2 separate regions of the Homo sapiens genome follow, and region 1 is linked to region 2. Evidence: fine-mapped expression QTL. A gene starts in region 2. The other region holds a variant in brackets. All regions are shown on one strand. Distances are between the middles of the regions.

Region 1 (8,026 bases), 42 kb before region 2:
GGGCTTGGGCCATCTCATGATGGAGCACGGCCTGTTTTCCTGGCTTGCTCCCCTGAAGCTCCCTGGAGTGCTGGGCCAGCTTTCCCGCCCACACCCCACCTGGGCCTGTGGTCCTGGGACTGAGCAGGAGCAACATCCTCTTTGTGGTGTTGGTGTCCTTGTGACAGGGAACAGACAAATATATGATCTGTCAGGTGGTGACAGCACTACTGAGACTAGTGAGGCTATGTGGGGGAGAGGCAGAGCAGAGGGAGGGCTGGGCAGCTCACACAAGCCTTATGTGGCATGATGCACAGGGGACCACGGGGTGGTGGCCAGGGAGCTCCTGCACCCTCAGCAGAACCGTGTCTGGCTCAGAGTAGGTCGCAGACACCACGTGTTGGACAGGTGCTTTGGGTATGTGGCCTCTGACCAGCTGTGGCCTCCATTGCAGGTGCTCTCGGAACCCTGGCGTCTCTCCACCAGCCAGATCCCCCAATCCCAGATCCGCATGTTCGACCCAGAGCAGCACCCCAATCACCTGGGCGCTGGAGGTGGCTTTGGCCCTGTGAGTGCTCCTGAAGGGGGTGGGTGGGCAGCACCAGGGCCCTGAGGGTTTCAGTGGCGAGTGCAGGCCCTGAGGTCAGACGAGAGGCAGGAGCACCTTGCTTAGAGGAGAGCATAACCCCAGACCTGCATGGAAGCAGAATGTTAGCTATGGACTCAGGCAGCCAAGCACCTGGGACCCACCCATCCCAAATACCTCCCTGCTGAAGCATGACCGTGGTTTCCGGGGTACTGAAGCATGACTGTGGGGCTGGTTTCCAGGGTACTGGGCAGTGCACTGGGTGCTTCTGAAGTCTACTTATCCAAGAGAGTGCAGCTGTCTCCCACAGAAACCTTCACATGGGCTAGCTTGTCAGAAGGCTAGAGAACCCTCTGGAGAGAGACGGAGTGATCTAGAGAATAAGCCCCCTGAGGGAAACTGGGAGGTCCCAGATCCCTTGGCGGGGTCTGGGCAGCATTCTTTGGTTTTCACAGTTTCCTGGGGGTGGTCCTCAGGAAAAATGCAGTGTCTAGGGCTGGGGCCCGTTCCTGCAACTCTTGTGGGAAGAACAAGTACAATATCAGCTTGGCTTTCAGATCTTCAAGGTTTGATTTATGCCTTCTTCACCCTTCTTGTTGCCCTCAGGTAGCAGATGATGGCTATGGAGTTTCCTACATGATTGCAGGCGAGAACACGATCTTCTTCCACATCTCCAGCAAGTTCTCAAGCTCAGAGACGGTGAGTCTCCTGCCACAGCTCAGGCCTGAGGAAGGGGTGCCACCTGGGGCTGCCCAGGAACACAGGTGTCTTTGGCTGGGGAGGCATCCTTGCTTGTGGGAACAGAGGGGTGGGTACATATCTGAAGGTGCATCTGAACTCTTGGCTCCCACAGAACGCCCAGCGCTTTGGAAACCACATCCGCAAAGCCCTGCTGGACATTGCTGATCTTTTCCAAGTTCCCAAGGCCTACAGCTGAAGGTTGGAGAAATGCCAGCTGCCCTTTCGTCCCCACACTGTGGAGGAAGGGACCTGTGGCAGCTCACAGGCATGAGGGGTGGCCGTGCACAGGTGCCCAGGCTCCAAGGACAGCTCCGGCAGCAGGTCCTCGCTGGGCAGATGCTGCTCCCTGAGGGCCCAGGTGGTGGAGGTGGGGTTGGAGCAGGAAGGGAATTTTGATTTTTTTTTTTCTTGATAGATACTAATAAAAATAAGGCTGTGTAATTTTCTCTCAGCCCTTAGGTACCTGTGTTTTGTTTGGGAACTCGGAGGCCCTCCCCCTCCCCCAGCTCAGACCACAGAGGTGGCAAGAGAAGGGCTGAAGCTGGAAGACTGTTCATGAGGGACTTGTGTGACCTGCTTTGAAATGTGTGACTCTGCTGAGTGACGTAGGCTCTGAGATAGCTGTCCACGCCCACGTGTTTGCTTGGAATAAATACTTGCCTCAGAACCTTCACCTGTTCCCTGGGGCCATTTCTGTTTGTCTGTCTGCTGGAGAGTGAGCCCACCTCCTCCCATGCAGGGGCATGTGTGAGGCACCCCTCTTGGCTGAGGCACAACCCTGCACGGGCCCCGCAGCTTCTTGTCAGCATGGAAAGGGGCTGCAGGCCCAGGCCTGAAGTCTTGAGGCGCCAGGTGGTCATGTCTGCAAGAGGGCACGCAGGATGACCTGTAGCAACAGACACTCCTTCACTGAGGTTGGCTCGGCTGCTAAAATCATGTTAAGAGTAAATACAAAATAATTATTCTTTGTTTTTAAGGCGGAGTTTCGCTCTTGTTGCCCAGGCTGGAGTGCAGTGGCACGATCTCGACTCACTACAACCTCTGCCTCCTGGGTTCAAGCGATTCTCGTACCTCAGCTCCTGAGTAGCTGGGACAACAGGCGCCCGCCATCACGCCCGGCTAATTTTTTGTATTTTTAGTAGAGGCAGGGTTTTACCATGTTGGCCAGGCTGGTCTCGAATTCCTGACCTCAGGTGATCCACCTGCCTCAGCCTCCCAACGTGCAGGGATTATAGGTGTGAGCCACCGCACCCAGCCATAAAAAATAATTTTTATGAAAAGTATAAGTAGGCCCTCAATTACTGTAATTGAAGTGAATTAGATTCAGTTCTGGACCTTCATTTAGGAACCAGTGTCTTCATCTGTTTTTGTTTTTTTCTTTTTTTTCCCATGAGATAGGGTCTCACTATGTTGCCCAGGCTGGTCTCGAACTCCTGAGCTTAAGTGATCCTCCCACCTCGACTTTCCAAAGTGCTAGGATTTCAGGCGTGAGCCACCGTGCCCGGCCAGGAACCAGTGTCTGTTGAACACCCACCATAGACTTGGCCCTGTGCTGGGGATTCAGTGGTAAACAAGGTCCTATTCCTGCCCATGTCGAATTCACTGCTGGGTGAGGCAGGTGTGGTCAGGGGACAGAGCAGCTGGCAGGAAACCAGGAGGCTTTTGGGATAATCCACTTACCAAGTACAGGCATGGGTTGCTTAATGAAGGGGATACATTCTGAGAAGTGCATTGTTAGGCGATTTTGTTGTGCAAAGATTCTAGAGTGCATTTACACAAAGGTAGATGGTGCAGCCTACTACAGACCTGGGCTATGCTGCTTACCCTGTTGCTCCTAGGCCGCATGCCTTTACAACATGTTACCATACTGAATACTGTAGGCAACTGTAATACAATGGGAAGTCTTTGTGTATCTAAACTTGTCTAAACATAGAAAAGGTATAGTAAAAATGTTATATAAAAGATTAAAAATGGCACCCTTATGGCCAGGTGCAGTGGCTCACGCCTGTGATCCCAGCACCTTGGGAGGCCGAGGCAGGTGGATCACGAGGTCAGAAGATCGAGACCATCCTGGCTAACACGGTGAAACAGTGTCTCTACTAAACAAAATACAAAAACTAGCCAGGCATGGTGGCGGGCGCCCGTAGTCCTAGCTGCTTGGGAGGCTGAGGCAGGAGGATGGCGTGAACCCAGGAGGCGGAGCTTGCACTGAGCCAAGATGGCACCACTGCACTCCAGCCTGGGCAACAGAGCGAGACTCCGTCTCAAAAAAAAAAAAAATGGTACCCTTATATAAGACACTTATAAGACACCATGGGCTGGGCGCAGTGGCTCACGCTTGTAATCTCAGCACTTTGGGAGGCCAAGGCAGGTGGATCACAAGGTCAGGAGATCAAGACCACGGTGAAACCCTGTCTCTACTAAAAATACAAAAAATTAGCCAGGTGTGGTGGTGGGTGCTTGTAGTCCCAGCTACTGGGAGAGGCTGAGGCAGGAGAATGGCGTGAACCTGGGAGGTGGAGCTTGCAGTGAGCCAAGATCGCGCCACTGCACTCCAGCCTGGGCGACAGAGCAAGACTCCGTCTCAAAAAAAAAAAAAGAGGAAAAGTAAGTGGAGAGACAAAAGGAGAGGTGGGTGGCAATTTCAGACAGTGGCAAAAGCAAGCCTTCCTGATTGGGGTCCTTTGACCACAGGCCTGAAGGAGACGAGGAGCAAGTCATGTCCCTCATGTCCCTCATGTTCCGTACCTAAGGGCAGAGTATTCCTGGCTGAAGGAACAGCAAGAGCCAAAGCTTTGCGAGCGGTGTCTGCTGTGATGAAGGATGTGGCTAGTGTGGAGTCAGGGATGGGAAGAGCAAGCGGGGCAGCTAGATCGGGGTAACAAGGGCCTCGTAGGCCAGATTCTGGATTTTCTGAATGACGGGGGAAGCTGTTGGGCTTTGAACAGAGGGTGGCATAATCTGTCCTAATTTTAAGGGATCACTGGCTAACCAGGGTGGCGTTAGAACAAAGTAGGACGCAGTAACAGTGGAAGCAAGGAGACCCGCTGGAGAAGTGCTCCTGGTGGTGGTGGAGCTGGAAGAAATGAGCGGCTTAAACTAAGGCAGTGCCATAGGAAAGTAGAATTAAGGAGCTTGGAATGTCAAACGTAGGACTGACAAGTCTAATCAGGAGGAATCAAAGATAACTCATATTTTCTATATTGGGTGATTGGGTGATTAAATTAGGTCTTTAAATGTTGAATTTGACTTGCCTATAAGAAATAGCTGTGAAAATGTCTCAGACTCTTGAAAATATAAATGAAAAGCTAAGGAGAGATCTAGGCTCCTTCTAACAGTTTTGAAGACAGTTAAAACCTT[G/A]AAAGTGCATGAGAGGATTCCCAGGGCAGAGGCTCCTCACCTCCTTCAAGTCTTCATGAGCTATAAGAGTATGCCTCTTGGGGCCGGGCGCGGTGGCTCACACCTGTAATCCCAGCACTTTGGGAGGCCGAGGCGGGCAGATCACGAGGTCAGGAGATCGAGACCATCCTGGCTAATACAGCAAAACCCTGCCTCTACTAAAAATACAAAAATTAGCCGGGTGTGGTGGCACGTGCCTGTAGTCCCAGCTACTCAGGAGGCTGAGGCAGGAGAATCGCTTGAACCCAGGAGATGGAGGTTGCAGTGAGCTAAGATGGTGCCACTGTACTCCAGCCTGGGAGACCGAGACTCTGTCTCAAAAAAAAAAAAAAAAAAAGAGTACACCTCTGCCTGCAAAATGTTACATTCCATATCAGAGCGTTCTTCAGCTTCCAAAAGTATTTCCAGAGACCTCTACCTGTTTGGGTGCCAGTAAGCCTCCCCTGGGAAGGTGCCTGCGTTTTGGTAGTCTTCTGGGGACATCAGCTCACCCCGTCCTGAGATAGCAGTAAACAGAGTTTCCAACAAGCTAGCTTTCAATTAACATCAAAATTCAGCATTAAAGTTCTTTTATCTCATTTGTTCTGGGTTAAAATAGTGAGATGAGGAACAACAGTGGTAAACCAGGGTATAAACCTCTGGAGACTGCTGGGCATGGTAGCTCACGCCTGTAATGCCTGTGCTTTGGGAGGTCTTGAGCCCAGGAGTTCGAGACCAGCCTGGGTGGTGCAGTGAGACCCCATCTCTACAAAATTAAAAAAAAAAAATTAGCCAGGCGTGGTGGCACTTGCCTGTGGCCCCAGCTACTCTGGAGGCTGAGTTGGGAGGATTACTTGAGCCTGAGAGATTGAGGCTGCAGTGAGCCATGATTGACCCACTGCATTCCAGCCTAGGTGACAGAGCAACACCCTGTCTTAAAAAAATAAATAAACCTCTGATGACAACCCAAACCCCAATTAGTTCCCCATGTCCCATAGGTCTGCAGGTCTGCATTAATAAAAGCTAGCAGCCATAACATAAATCCTGAAACCTCATGGCTCAACCCAATAGAAGCTGGACTGTTGGTCAGATAAAATCCAGTTGGCTGAGATGAGGGCTCTGCTCCATACTGTTATTCAAGGATCTATGGTGACAGAGGCCCTGCCTTCAGCAGGTAGTACTCAAGCTGCCTTGGGCATCAACATCATAAGTACGTGGGGAGAGAAAGAGGGGGCCACCTGTGGGAGGCTTTGATGGCCTCAACCTCAAAGTGATACACAGCATTTCCCTCCACACCCTCTGGCTAAAGACTTGTATTTCAAGAGAATCTGAGAAGTAGAGTCTAGCTGTGTGTCCAGGGCGTAAAGGAAACATTTAGTGACAGTTGGTCTCAGATACACAAGGGCATGGGAAGACCAGCCTGACATCTTCCTGGGCTTCATGGCCTGGAGTTTGCAGGGTAGCCCACCTCCAGCTCCTGAGCAGGGTACTCAAGAGCCTGCACATTCCAGCTCAACTGATCTTTCCCGAGTCTTCTCTGTCCCTTACCAAGAACCCTGAGCCCAGAACACACTCGCCATTCCCCAAAGGAGGCAGGCTGAGCCACACCTTCGCCTTTGCCCTAGATGGGCCTTCTGCCTGGAATCCTGTGCCCTTTCTCCTACTCTCTCGGAAGCTGTCTTCCTTAGCCATCAGAATTATTCCTGATTCGGGCCAAGCACAGTGGCTCACACCTGTAATCCCAGCACTTTGGGAGTCCGAGGCGGGTGGATCACCTGAGGACAGGAGTTCGAGACCAGCCTGGCCAACATAGCGAAACCCGGTCTCTACTAAAAATACAAAAACTAGCTGGGCGTTGTGGCATGTGCTTGTAATCCCAGCTACTAGGGAGGCTGAGGCAGGAGAATCACTTGAACCTGGGAGGCGGAGGTTGCAGTGAGCCGAGATCGTGCCACTGCACTCCAGCCTGGGCAACAGAGCAAGACTCCGTCTCAAAAAAAAAAAAAAAGAATTATTCCCTATTCATGTTTCTCTGGGCTGCTGTAACAGAAATCGGCTCTGGGCTGTATAAGCAAATGGAAGTATGAAGAGCAGCTCACAGGTGGAAAGGGATGGCCAGAAAACCGGGTTCAACCGGGGCAGGAACCTGGCAGCTGGCGGAGGGAGTGTGGCCCAGGCAGCAGCCTCCTCAATAAACAAGCGAATGCTCACTCCTTGCCCAGAACTGTCTGGCTCAACCCCAGCCATTTTTCCTCCTCTGCAATCAGGCTGCTAAGAATCAGAATCCCTGAGAGAAAATTCAGGGGGTCTAAGGTTTGTCAGGATTCTCAAACACAAGGTGTTCAAAATCAAAGTTAACCTTCCAAGCTAGCTTCTCCCACTCTTCCACATCTCTGCCAGTGGTATCACCCCGGCCATTAGCCCCTTGCTTCTTTCTCCCTCCCTCCCACATTACCAAGCCCTGTCAAGTCGACCTTGGAATGGCTTTGACCCTGTCCACCACTCAGCCAAACAACAGCAACGGCCGGCCCCGTCGCCACCCGCCTCGGCAGCCAGAGACCTTTTAACTCTGCCACTCGCCTACTTACCACCCTTCTAGGGTGCCCACGTCCCTCTGAAAAAAAAGGCTGAGCTCAGACTGGCCTCTGGTCAGCCTCCTCCCAGCCAGAGCTTTCTGTCACTGCCCTTCTAGGTGTTGAGTGGCTCTGCTTCCAGTTCTTGCCTGGAGACCAGGAGCGCCCGGGAGGCCCCAGCACTTTCCAGCCCACATAGACCTGCGTGCACCTCTGCCTCGTCTCCCTGAGCCCGGGCTGCCTCCTCTGTAAGATACATGCCACATAATGTCCGCCACACATGATCGCTGTGACAGTGGAAATAGCTGGGCGTTCAGCGACTCATTCGACAAATGTTTACCAGCACCTTTGGTACCGGGCGCTGTCCTGGACACTGGGGACACAGCAGGCAAACGGGGCCCTGCGTATAAATCCTTAAGCTCAAGAAGGAGGTGGGGGCAAAACTGTCAGGCCGGGAAGCTCTTCATCTCCGCAGGATTCTCCCTCAACCTCAGGACGTCCCCAGCACCGCACCTGCCAGTCCCAGACTCGGACGCCGCAGACCTGTGGGAGCAGCGCGGAATGCCCCGCCCCTTTTCCCGAGGACACCCAATGAGGGCGAGAGGTCACTTCCGGGGAGGGTTCGCTAACGGAAAGGGCGGGGCATCCCTCTCGAGGAGCGGCCTTGTTCCTCAAGCGGCCGCTGGGGGCGCCAGAGCAGGACCGGAGCGCGGGCCAAGCTGGAGGTGAGCGAGGCCGCGCCCCCCTGGGCCCCGGCCCTCCCAACGCG
Region 2 (9,479 bases):
CGAGAGACTTTGGGTCCCTGGGGGTGCGACGGTGCCCCACTACCAGCACCGGCCCCAGGGTGCCCCACCGCTGTGGGCTGCCACCCTCACGCGTACCCCCACATACCAGGGGCCATGCTGATGGCCATCCGACTTCGGGGCATGGATCTGGAGGAGACCTCGGTGCTGACCCAGGCCCTGGCTCAGTCGGGACAGCAGCTGGAGTGGCCAGAGGCCTGGCGCCAGCAGCTTGTGGACAAGCATTCCACAGGGGGTGTGGGTGACAAGGTCAGCCTGGTCCTCGCACCTGCCCTGGCGGCATGTGGCTGCAAGGTTAGAAACCACCTCCTTTCCAGACGGGAGCCTATACCGCACATGCAGCAACCAGTCCATCCACAGGCAGCTCCCAACCTCAAGCCTGGCCCAAAGCCTCCAAGACCCTACCAAGGCTTCTCCCCACCCTGCTCCCCAGCACAGTTCTCCCCACCCCGTTCCCCAGCACAGCGCTTGGGGCCCCTCTGGCTCCAGACCAGGCCCCTTGGAGCAGGAAAAAGATCCACTGATGGAATTCAGACCCCTTTCCCCTTGGGTCCCCAGACAGCTCCCCCAAGGGAGGAGCTGAGGACTTTCCTCCCTCTGCCCCAAGCCTTGTTTCCCCAAGGACAGGTACCAACCTCCTCCCCTACTGACACTTCTCAACCAAGAAAACTTCCTTTCCATTCCCTCACCAGCTGGGCACCCCTATAGCTGCTTAAATACTTTCCAAATCCAGCTGCACTCCTAGCCAGGGAAGGTGAAGGGATGCACAGAGGTGGGGGAGGGGTACTGTGCAGGGTACTCAGCATCCCTGACCACCAGGTGCCAATGATCAGCGGACGTGGTCTGGGGCACACAGGAGGCACCTTGGATAAGCTGGAGTCTATTCCTGGATTCAATGTCATCCAGAGCCCAGAGCAGGTACGGGGCGCCACGGATCAGTCATTAATCCAGGTTGATGATGGAGACCCTGGCCAGAATCACTAAAAGATCACTGGTGGATCATTAGGGTCACTAATGAGAACACTGGTCAAGGTTACTCATGAGTCACTGGGCCTGGGCCGAAATCATCAGTGGAACTTTGATTAGGATCATAAAATGGGAAGTTGGTCAAAATCACAGATGGCTGGCGGGGCACGGTGGCTCACACCTGTAGTCCTAGCACTTGGGGAGGCCGAAGAGGGCAGATCCCTTGAACCCAGGAGTTCAAAACCAGCCTGGATAACACGGCAAAACCCCATCTCTACAAAATAGTTCGCTGCGTGTGGTGGTGCACGCATGTGGTTCCAGCTACTCAGGAGGCTGAGGCAGGAGGATCACTTGAGCCTGGGAGGTCTAGGCTGCAGTGAGCCGGGACGATGCCACTGCACTCCAGCCTGGGCAACAGAGTGAGACCCTGTCCCAGCACTCTGGGAGGCAGAGGAGCCCAGTTGGAGATCAGCCTGGGTAATATAGTGAAACTTGATCTCTACAAAAAAAAGAAGAAAAAAAAAAGCCGCGTGTGGTGGTGCGCACCTGTAGTCCCAGCTACTGGGAAGCTGAGGTGGGAGGATCACTTAAGCCCAGGAGGCAGAGGTCACAATGAGCCGAAATTGTGCCAACTGCACTCCAGCCTGGGCAACAGAGGAAGACTCTTCACAGAAAAAAAAAAAAAAAAAAAAAAAGCTGCTAAGTCATTTACCATAAGTCACTGAGAACAGGGGATGTCTGACCAGATGCAAGTGCTGCTGGACCAGGCGGGCTGCTGTATCGTGGGTCAGAGTGAGCAGCTGGTTCCTGCGGACGGAATCCTATATGCAGCCAGAGATGTGACAGCCACCGTGGACAGCCTGCCACTCATCACAGGTGACCTGACTCCATGGCCTGCTTCTGCATGTTCACAGGCTCCTGACCTCCAAACTCAAGTCAAGGGCCTCTCGTTAGGAGTTACCCGTCACCTGACCGTGTGCCCCCCTACCCCCATCACAAGATGCCTGACCACCACCATGTGGGGTGGCCTGATACTCAACCCACCAGGTGCTGCCACCCCCATAATAAGGGACTTGACCCTCAATGCTCAGGGCCCCTGACCCCAAAGTCGGCATCCCCGAACTCTCCCAAGAAGCTCCAGGTTCTCCATTGTCTCCAACCTCCTCTGCCTCCCCCAAAGCCTCCATTCTCAGTAAGAAACTCGTGGAGGGGCTGTCCGCTCTGGTGGTGGACGTTAAGTTCGGAGGGGCCGCCGTCTTCCCCAACCAGGAGCAGGCCCGGGAGCTGGCAAAGACGCTGGTGAGCGGTGTGGCCTTTCCCTGGGCAAGCGTCTTGATGCGGGCCCAGCCTACCCTTCACCCCTCCCGTCCCCACTGCCTCCCTCCACTCAGCAGTCCTGCCTAACCCCAGTCCCACCCTCTTCTGCCCGAAGTCCCTCCCTCCTTCACGGCTTCCTAACCTGCTGTGACTTTAGAGGTCAAGGCTGGCCCGGCCTGGACCTGGGGAAGCCCTCTGTGGCGTTCCTGCCCCAGACCAAGTACAAGTTCCTCCTGGCCCCATGGCGAGGTGTCGCACTTCACTCGTGTCTCTTCCCCACCCCAATCCTTCCCTGACTTCATGCTGGGGGGCTGGCAACCCAGGGTGCAGCAGGGGCTGGAGTTCGACCAAGAACCGGCTGCAGAAGGCCCCGCCATGGGGGGTCCACGCTGAGCCTCCTCTCCGCAGGTTGGCGTGGGAGCCAGCCTAGGGCTTCGGGTCGCGGCAGCGCTGACCGCCATGGACAAGCCCCTGGGTCGCTGCGTGGGCCACGCCCTGGAGGTGGAGGAGGCGCTGCTCTGCATGGACGGCGCAGGCCCGCCAGACTTAAGGGACCTGGTCACCACGCTCGGTGAGGGGGACGGGGTGTAGGGGAGCGGAGGCGGCGGGGGGTGCTTCCCGCTGGGGCCGCCCCGACCCGGCCGCGCCTAAGACCCGTCCCCGCCCGCAGGGGGCGCCCTGCTCTGGCTCAGCGGACACGCGGGGACTCAGGCCCAGGGCGCTGCCCGGGTGGCCGCGGCGCTGGACGACGGCTCGGCCCTTGGCCGCTTCGAGCGGATGCTGGCGGCGCAGGGCGTGGATCCCGGTCTGGCCCGAGCCCTGTGCTCGGGAAGTCCCGCAGAACGCCGGCAGCTGCTGCCTCGCGCCCGGGAGCAGGAGGAGCTGCTGGCGCCCGCAGATGGTGAGCGTCGGGGGAGTCCCCGTCCTTCCGCCTCCGCCATCCCCTTCCCTTCCCGAGGCCCCGCCCCTTCCCGAGCCCGCGCCTCTCAGCCCCTCTCCCCGCAGGCACCGTGGAGCTGGTCCGGGCGCTGCCGCTGGCGCTGGTGCTGCACGAGCTCGGGGCCGGGCGCAGCCGCGCTGGGGAGCCGCTCCGCCTGGGGGTGGGCGCAGAGCTGCTGGTCGACGTGGGTCAGAGGCTGCGCCGTGGTGAGCGCCGCCCCCGCCCTGCTGGCCCCGCACCCCCGCCCAGCTCCGGCCGCGCGGCCTCTAACAGCCCCTCGCTCTGCAGGGACCCCCTGGCTCCGCGTGCACCGGGACGGCCCCGCGCTCAGCGGCCCGCAGAGCCGCGCCCTGCAGGAGGCGCTCGTACTCTCCGACCGCGCGCCATTCGCCGCCCCCTCGCCCTTCGCAGAGCTCGTTCTGCCGCCGCAGCAATAAAGCTCCTTTGCCGCGAAACCTTGTCAGTGCTTGGGCGGGAGCGGAAGGATCCAGGGCTGCGGAGGCGGGGGCCGTCTCGATGAACACGTGACCCCCGGCGGGCTCCGCCTTCCGCGCACGCGCTGAGAGCCTGTCAGCGGCTGCGCCCGTGTGCGCATGCGCAGCTCCGGGGACGCCTGCGCCCTGCCTGTGAGCGTGTGGCGCCCGCTTTCCCTGAGCCGGCGGGGCAGAGCGCAGGGAGCTGGAGGTCGGCGCTTCCTCTCGTGCTTGGTCCACTGACGCGCGGCCCCGCCGCGAGGTGCGGACGCCGGGGCTGGGAGGGGAGGAGGTAGCCCTGAGGACTCGCTGGACTCCGGGGTAGTTTCCCAGCTCCGGCTACTGCGCGGGGCTGGCGGGGCACACCCCAGGGCGCGCTGGAGGCCGGAGCGAGGCTGGGGCGCCCGTGGGAGGCTCCCAGCAGGCACCGGTGTTCTCGCGGCCAAGCACAGTTATAACGCGCTCGCGCGGCGCTTCGAGTGGTCCTGGAACCTTTCTGGCCACGAGGGCGCTGGCCTTGCTGGGGAGGGCACAAACCCAGAACCGCCCGGGCGGGGGTGCAGTGAGTCCTCGGGAGGGTGCCCTCAGCAGGAGGGGGCAGTGACCGGGAGTCCTGAGACCTCCACCTAGCAAACCTTCTGCGGGGGCCCGTGGGAAAGGCTCAAAGGTCACCAACGCAAAGGCAGGGCGTCGGCTGTGAGCCCGGAGGAGCTGCTGGGAAGCCTGGATGTGAGGAGGGTGGGGTTTTGTGGCGGGTGGAAGTGTCGTGCGTCTCTGCCAGGAGAGGTTAAACACAGCCGGCGGGCAGAGTCTGAGCTCCGGGGGTAGGTCGTGCAGGTTTTCTGCTGGGAGTGTGGAGGAAGGCCGCGGTTGGTTGAAGTGGCTGGAGGTAACAGGAAAGTGTTGGAGGAATCGGTTGCTCTCGGGGATTGCAAGCCAGAGAGTTACCCACCTCCTTTTAAGAAATGGGTTTATTGCAAATAGATAACGTGGTTAGTTCAGGCAAGGCATGCACTTGGAATGCTTTCCGTCAGCAAGAGGTTCACCTTGCTGAGGTGCAGGTGCAGGGCAGGGTGCGGTGACAGGCTGGTGATCCCAGGTAGAGGACAGGAGTGACAGGTGTGGTTGCCCAGGTGTGGATGTTTGGTGGAGGTGGAGTTCTGAGCTCAGGTGAGCAGCTGCAAATGCCTGTTAAGCCTGAACGTGGGCTGGGTCCTTCAGATGGGTGGCTGGTCTCAAGTCGCAGGGGCAGCCCAGGCACTGTCCTGGGCCTTCCCTTCTGGCTCCTGACGCCTGTGCTTGTTTCCAGGAGCATCAGATCCATGCTGCTGCTGACTCGGAGCCCCACAGCTTGGCACAGGCTCTCTCAGCTCAAGCCTCGGGTCCTCCCTGGGACCCTGGGAGGCCAGGCCCTGCATCTGAGGTCCTGGCTTTTGTCAAGGCAGGGCCCTGCAGAGACAGGTGGGCAGGGCCAGCCCCAGGGCCCTGGGCTTCGAACCCGGCTGCTGATCACAGGCCTGTTCGGGGCTGGACTCGGTGGGGCCTGGCTGGCCCTGAGGGCTGAGAAGGAGAGGCTGCAGCAGCAAAAGCGAACAGAAGCCCTGCGCCAGGCAGCTGTGGGCCAGGGCGACTTCCACCTGCTGGATCACAGAGGCCGGGCTCGCTGCAAGGCTGACTTCCGGGGCCAGTGGGTGCTGATGTACTTTGGCTTCACTCACTGCCCTGACATCTGCCCAGACGAGCTGGAGAAGCTGGTGCAGGTGGTGCGGCAGCTGGAAGCAGAGCCTGGTTTGCCTCCAGTGCAGCCTGTCTTCATCACTGTGGACCCCGAGCGGGACGACGTTGAAGCCATGGCCCGCTACGTCCAGGACTTCCACCCAAGACTGTTGGGTCTGACCGGCTCCACCAAACAGGTTGCCCAGGCTAGTCACAGTTACCGCGTGTACTACAATGCAGGCCCCAAGGATGAGGACCAGGACTACATCGTGGACCACTCCATTGCCATCTACCTGCTCAACCCTGACGGCCTCTTCACGGATTACTACGGCCGGAGCAGATCGGCTGAGCAGATCTCAGACAGTGTGCGGCGGCACATGGCGGCTTTCCGCAGTGTCCTGTCTTGAGCCACTGCAGTCTGGGCCCCATCATTAAACGGGCTGCGTTTAATCTGTGTGTGTGTGTGATCTGTACCAGCGGCCCAGGGAGGCCAGGCAGCCCTCTTCTCTGCGCAGGTGTACATAAAAGGGTTTTTAGGGGGAAGATGAGATGGCAACACTGCTTTATTAGGCCGGGCCAGCCAGGAGCAGACACACGGCTCCTCAGTACACATTCCCCCACCCCTGCCTCGGTGCTCCCCACTCAGGGCTGGGCCATGGAGGGGGCAGCGTAGGTCTGGAAGCGCTTGTGCGCTCGCTGGTGCGTGAGCAGTCTCAGGGACATGGTGTCCACGGCCATCTCCAGCCCGGGCTGCTGGGTTATCTCCACTGTGTAGTCATTGGCCTGCAGGGGTGGCACATCAGCAGGGTCTGGGGACCGTCTCCCCCTCCCACGTATCCCAGGCTACTCACCAGCTGCAGGGAGGCCAGCATGGAACGACACACCTCGAAGGCCGGCTGGCCAGCCACCAGCTCCGCAAAGGGACACCACTCATTGAGCTGGGGGAACCGTGAGACCAGCTGGTCCCCATAGGTGTGGATGTCAAAGGGCACATGCTGCTCCTGCACAGGGGAGGGGCATGTTGGCTGCGGAGAGAGGCAAGGCCCTGGACAGACCCGTGGCACACAGCTCTGGTTCCCAGCGGCCCCGCCTCACCTGCTCCTGGAGCAGAGGCTGCACTGTGTCCTCCCAGTCCCTGATGCGCTGGCTCAGCTCTGTCTCCTGGACAAACTTCTGGGAGGTGGCGATGAAGAGCTCCTAGGGGAGGATCAGCAGGAGCTACTGCCTCCCAAGCAGGGGCCTGGGCACCGCTCACCTGTCCCCCTCCCCTCCCCGTCTCCCTCTAACCCAGGCCTACCACATTCCTTCGAACCAGCTCCTCGTAGCTCAGGGACATCGGCACTGCGTCTGGGAAGGGGTAGCTGTGAGCTGGGCAGCTAAGGGGCCACGCTCTCCCCTGCCCCCAGCTCCAGTGGCCCCTCAGCACTCCTAGCCCGCTGCCCACCTACCAAGGTCAGCGGCTTCCCTGGGGTCTGCTCCCTCGGGCTCCATGTACTCCTCAGGCTCTAGAAAGTCATCTGCTGGGAGGTGGGAGAGTGAACAGCACGCAGGCAGCTAGTCGGCAGGTGCCAAGCCCCACCCCACCCCCTGGCAGGCACCCACCTGCTGCCCCCAGGTCTTCCAGGGAATCCTCCAGGTGGTCCTCCTCTGCAGGCCGCAGCCACTGCTCAGCCACCTGTCCAGAGAAAGCATCTGTGAGGGGCACTGTCACCTCCCATCAGGGCCACCACGGGGTCCTAGATCACAGCTGACCAGCTGGGACTTGCCTCCCTCCTCTGCAGCTTCCGGAGAGTTTCCAACTGCTCCTTCACGTGTGTCCAGTACAGGACCTCCATGTCTGCAGACAAAGGCCTTGTGAGGGCTCCCTCGTCCTTCCCAGGCCCCGTGCCAGTCCACCCAAGGCTTTGGGTGACACCAGGTGGGGGAAGAGGTAGGGGAAGGAGAGTAAAACTGTCTTCCCCGAGGACTTCAGCCTCACCTGCAAAGGACGGACCCTTTCGCCGAAGCCGCCTGCTGTCGGCATGGTCTGCATCTGTGAAAGAACATGCTCAGCACCAGCCAGGCCAAGAGCTGCCCACAGCATTGGGAAAAGGGTGCTGATCCTCCTCCACTGGCCCTGGCCCAGCCCCCAGCTCCCAGTGGTCCGGAGTGCACACCACACCCACTCACAGGCAGCCAGGTACCACTGGTGGAAGTCCTGCAGCTTGGCAGCGCCCTTCCTCTTGCGCTTCTGTCCCAGAGCCTCCTCCACACAGGGGGGCACAGAGTAAGGCCTACCTGGGGGCAAACAGGGACTGTCTTAGAGCCGCTGGGGGATCAGGGTGCAAAGCCCACTCCCACCCCCCCACCTCATGCCCCAGGAAACCCAGCCAGGGGTACCTGAGTGGAGGTACCTTCCACCCAATTACCTTTCTTGAAGGGCTTAGACTCCAAGGAGTCAAAGGGGTCCAGGCTCTGCCAGGGGTCTGGAGTCTCCTGGGCACAGAGCACAAGAAGGCGCTGGAGAAGTAGGGGGTGCACAGCCGTCCCTCCCAAAGGAGTAGGGGATGCACAGCCACCCTCCCAAAGGAAGAGTAGGGGGTACACAGCCGCGCTCCCAAAGGAGGAGTAGGGGGTGCACAGCCACCCTCCCAAAGGAGGAGTAGGGGGTTCACAGCCACCCTCCCAAAGGAGTAGGGGGTACACAGCCACCCTCCCAGAGGAGTAGGGGGTGCACAGCCGCCTTCCCAAAGCCCAGGCAACAAGTGCAGTGACAGCCTGGGGCAGAGCCGACCACACTCAAATCCTGGATCACAGAGGGGAACACTAGAGAGAGGGTGGGAGCCCAGAGTCGCATGAGGGGGTCTTTAAGAGAGCAAGTGCAAAGGGCCACAGGCTGGGAACACCACAGGCCAGCAGGAGCAAGAGCATGATGGGCAGGCAGCCAGTCCTCGAATCCGCCCATCCCTCCCTGCCGGGGGTCAGGGCCCCAACACTCCTACCTTCACGCAGGATGCAGGCTCTGGGGCCCCCTCCCGCTCCCGCAGCATGTACCTCCTGGGCAGGGCAGCACTCTGCAAAGACAGTCACAGGGTCCCCACTTCTCCTCTTTCTCCCCTCAAGGCTCTGGGTACCCCAGGAACTCCACCTTGGGTTAACATCAAGAACCCTACAAGGGTCGGGCGTGGTGGCTCATGCCTGTAATCCCAGCACTTTGGGAGGCCAAGGCGGGCAGATCACCCGAGGTCAAGAGTTTGAGACCAGCCTGGCCAACATGGTGAAACCCCCGCCTCTACTAAAAATGCAAAAAAAATTAGCCGGGTGTGGTGGCGCACACCTGTAATCCCACCTACTCGGGAGGCCGAGGCAGGAGAATCGCTTGAACCCAGGAGGCAGAGGTTGCAGTGAGCCGATATCACACCACTGCACTCCAGCCTGGGCAAAAGAACAAGACTCCGTCCAAAAAAAAAAAAAAAACCTACAGGGACCGGACACAGTGGCTCACGCCTATAATCCCAGTGCTTTGAGAGGCCAAGGCGGGTAGATCACTTGAGCCCAGGAGTTCAAGACCAGCCTGGGCAATGCAGTGAGACCCCGTCTCTACAAAAAATACAAAAATTAGCCGGGTGTGGTGGTACACGCCTGTAGTCCCAGCTACTCGGGAGGCTGAGGTGGAAGGATCACCTGAGCCTAGAGAGAGTCAAGGCTGCAATGAGCCAAGATCAGGCCACTGCACTCTAGCCTGGGCAACAGAGCAAGACCCTGTCTCAAAAATAAATAAATAAAATAAGATAAAAATAAACCCTGCTAGTACTCTCTGGGGGTATTAAAACAAAAACCCTAAGAAAAACTTTAAAACACAAACAGTGGGCCGGGCGTGGTGGCTCACGCCTGTAATCCCAGTGCTTTGGGAGGCCAAGACGGGCAGATCACGAAGTCAGGAGATTGAGACCATCCTGGCCAACATGGTGAAACCCCGTCTCTACTAAAAATACAAAAAATTAGCCAGGCATGGTGGCGGGCGCCTGTAGTCCCAGCTACTTGGGAGGCTGAGGGAGGAGAATGGCGTG

Evidence for each region. PIP is the estimated chance that this variant, and not a neighbour inherited with it, causes the effect.
Region 1: its variant is fine-mapped to the expression of SCO2 in whole blood (INTERVAL, PIP above 0.99).

The regions. Positions count from the first base shown.
Region 1 is chr22:50,562,814-50,570,839 of GRCh38, reverse strand. SYCE3 (synaptonemal complex central element protein 3) reads left to right here and starts at 7,921. Exons shown (of 3, transcript NM_001123225.3): 1 at 7,921-7,982. CPT1B (carnitine palmitoyltransferase 1B) reads left to right here. Exons shown (of 20, transcript NM_152246.3): 17 at 434-547; 18 at 1,172-1,264; 19 at 1,419-1,504; 20 at 1,759-1,979. The coding sequence ends at 1,502. It overlaps CHKB-CPT1B (CHKB-CPT1B readthrough (NMD candidate)), which reads left to right. Exons shown (of 30, transcript NR_027928.2): 27 at 434-547; 28 at 1,172-1,264; 29 at 1,419-1,673; 30 at 1,759-1,979. It overlaps LOC107985568 (a long non-coding RNA gene), which reads right to left and starts at 7,879. Exons shown (of 2, transcript XR_001755606.3): 1 at 7,273-7,879; 2 at 1,697-2,233. RefSeq lists an enhancer at 606-675 and a silencer at 7,820-8,026. The variant G/A (reference allele first, on the strand shown) is at 4,667.
Region 2 is chr22:50,519,969-50,529,447 of GRCh38, reverse strand. SCO2 (synthesis of cytochrome C oxidase 2) reads left to right here and starts at 3,850. Exons shown (of 2, transcript NM_005138.3): 1 at 3,850-3,976; 2 at 5,024-5,880. The coding sequence starts at 5,037. The coding sequence ends at 5,837. NCAPH2 (non-SMC condensin II complex subunit H2) reads right to left here. Exons shown (of 20, transcript NM_152299.4): 10 at 8,412-8,483; 11 at 7,839-7,905; 12 at 7,600-7,707; 13 at 7,409-7,462; 14 at 7,197-7,267; 15 at 7,033-7,105; 16 at 6,879-6,947; 17 at 6,728-6,777; 18 at 6,526-6,627; 19 at 6,282-6,431; 20 at 4,668-6,213. The coding sequence ends at 6,073. It overlaps TYMP (thymidine phosphorylase), which reads left to right. Exons shown (of 10, transcript NM_001953.5): 3 at 110-312; 4 at 838-936; 5 at 1,731-1,860; 6 at 2,165-2,283; 7 at 2,710-2,872; 8 at 2,972-3,202; 9 at 3,307-3,447; 10 at 3,530-3,696. The coding sequence ends at 3,678. RefSeq lists enhancers at 29-188, 1,909-2,058, 2,079-2,278, 2,069-2,640, 2,449-2,748 and silencers at 2,839-3,668, 3,879-4,178.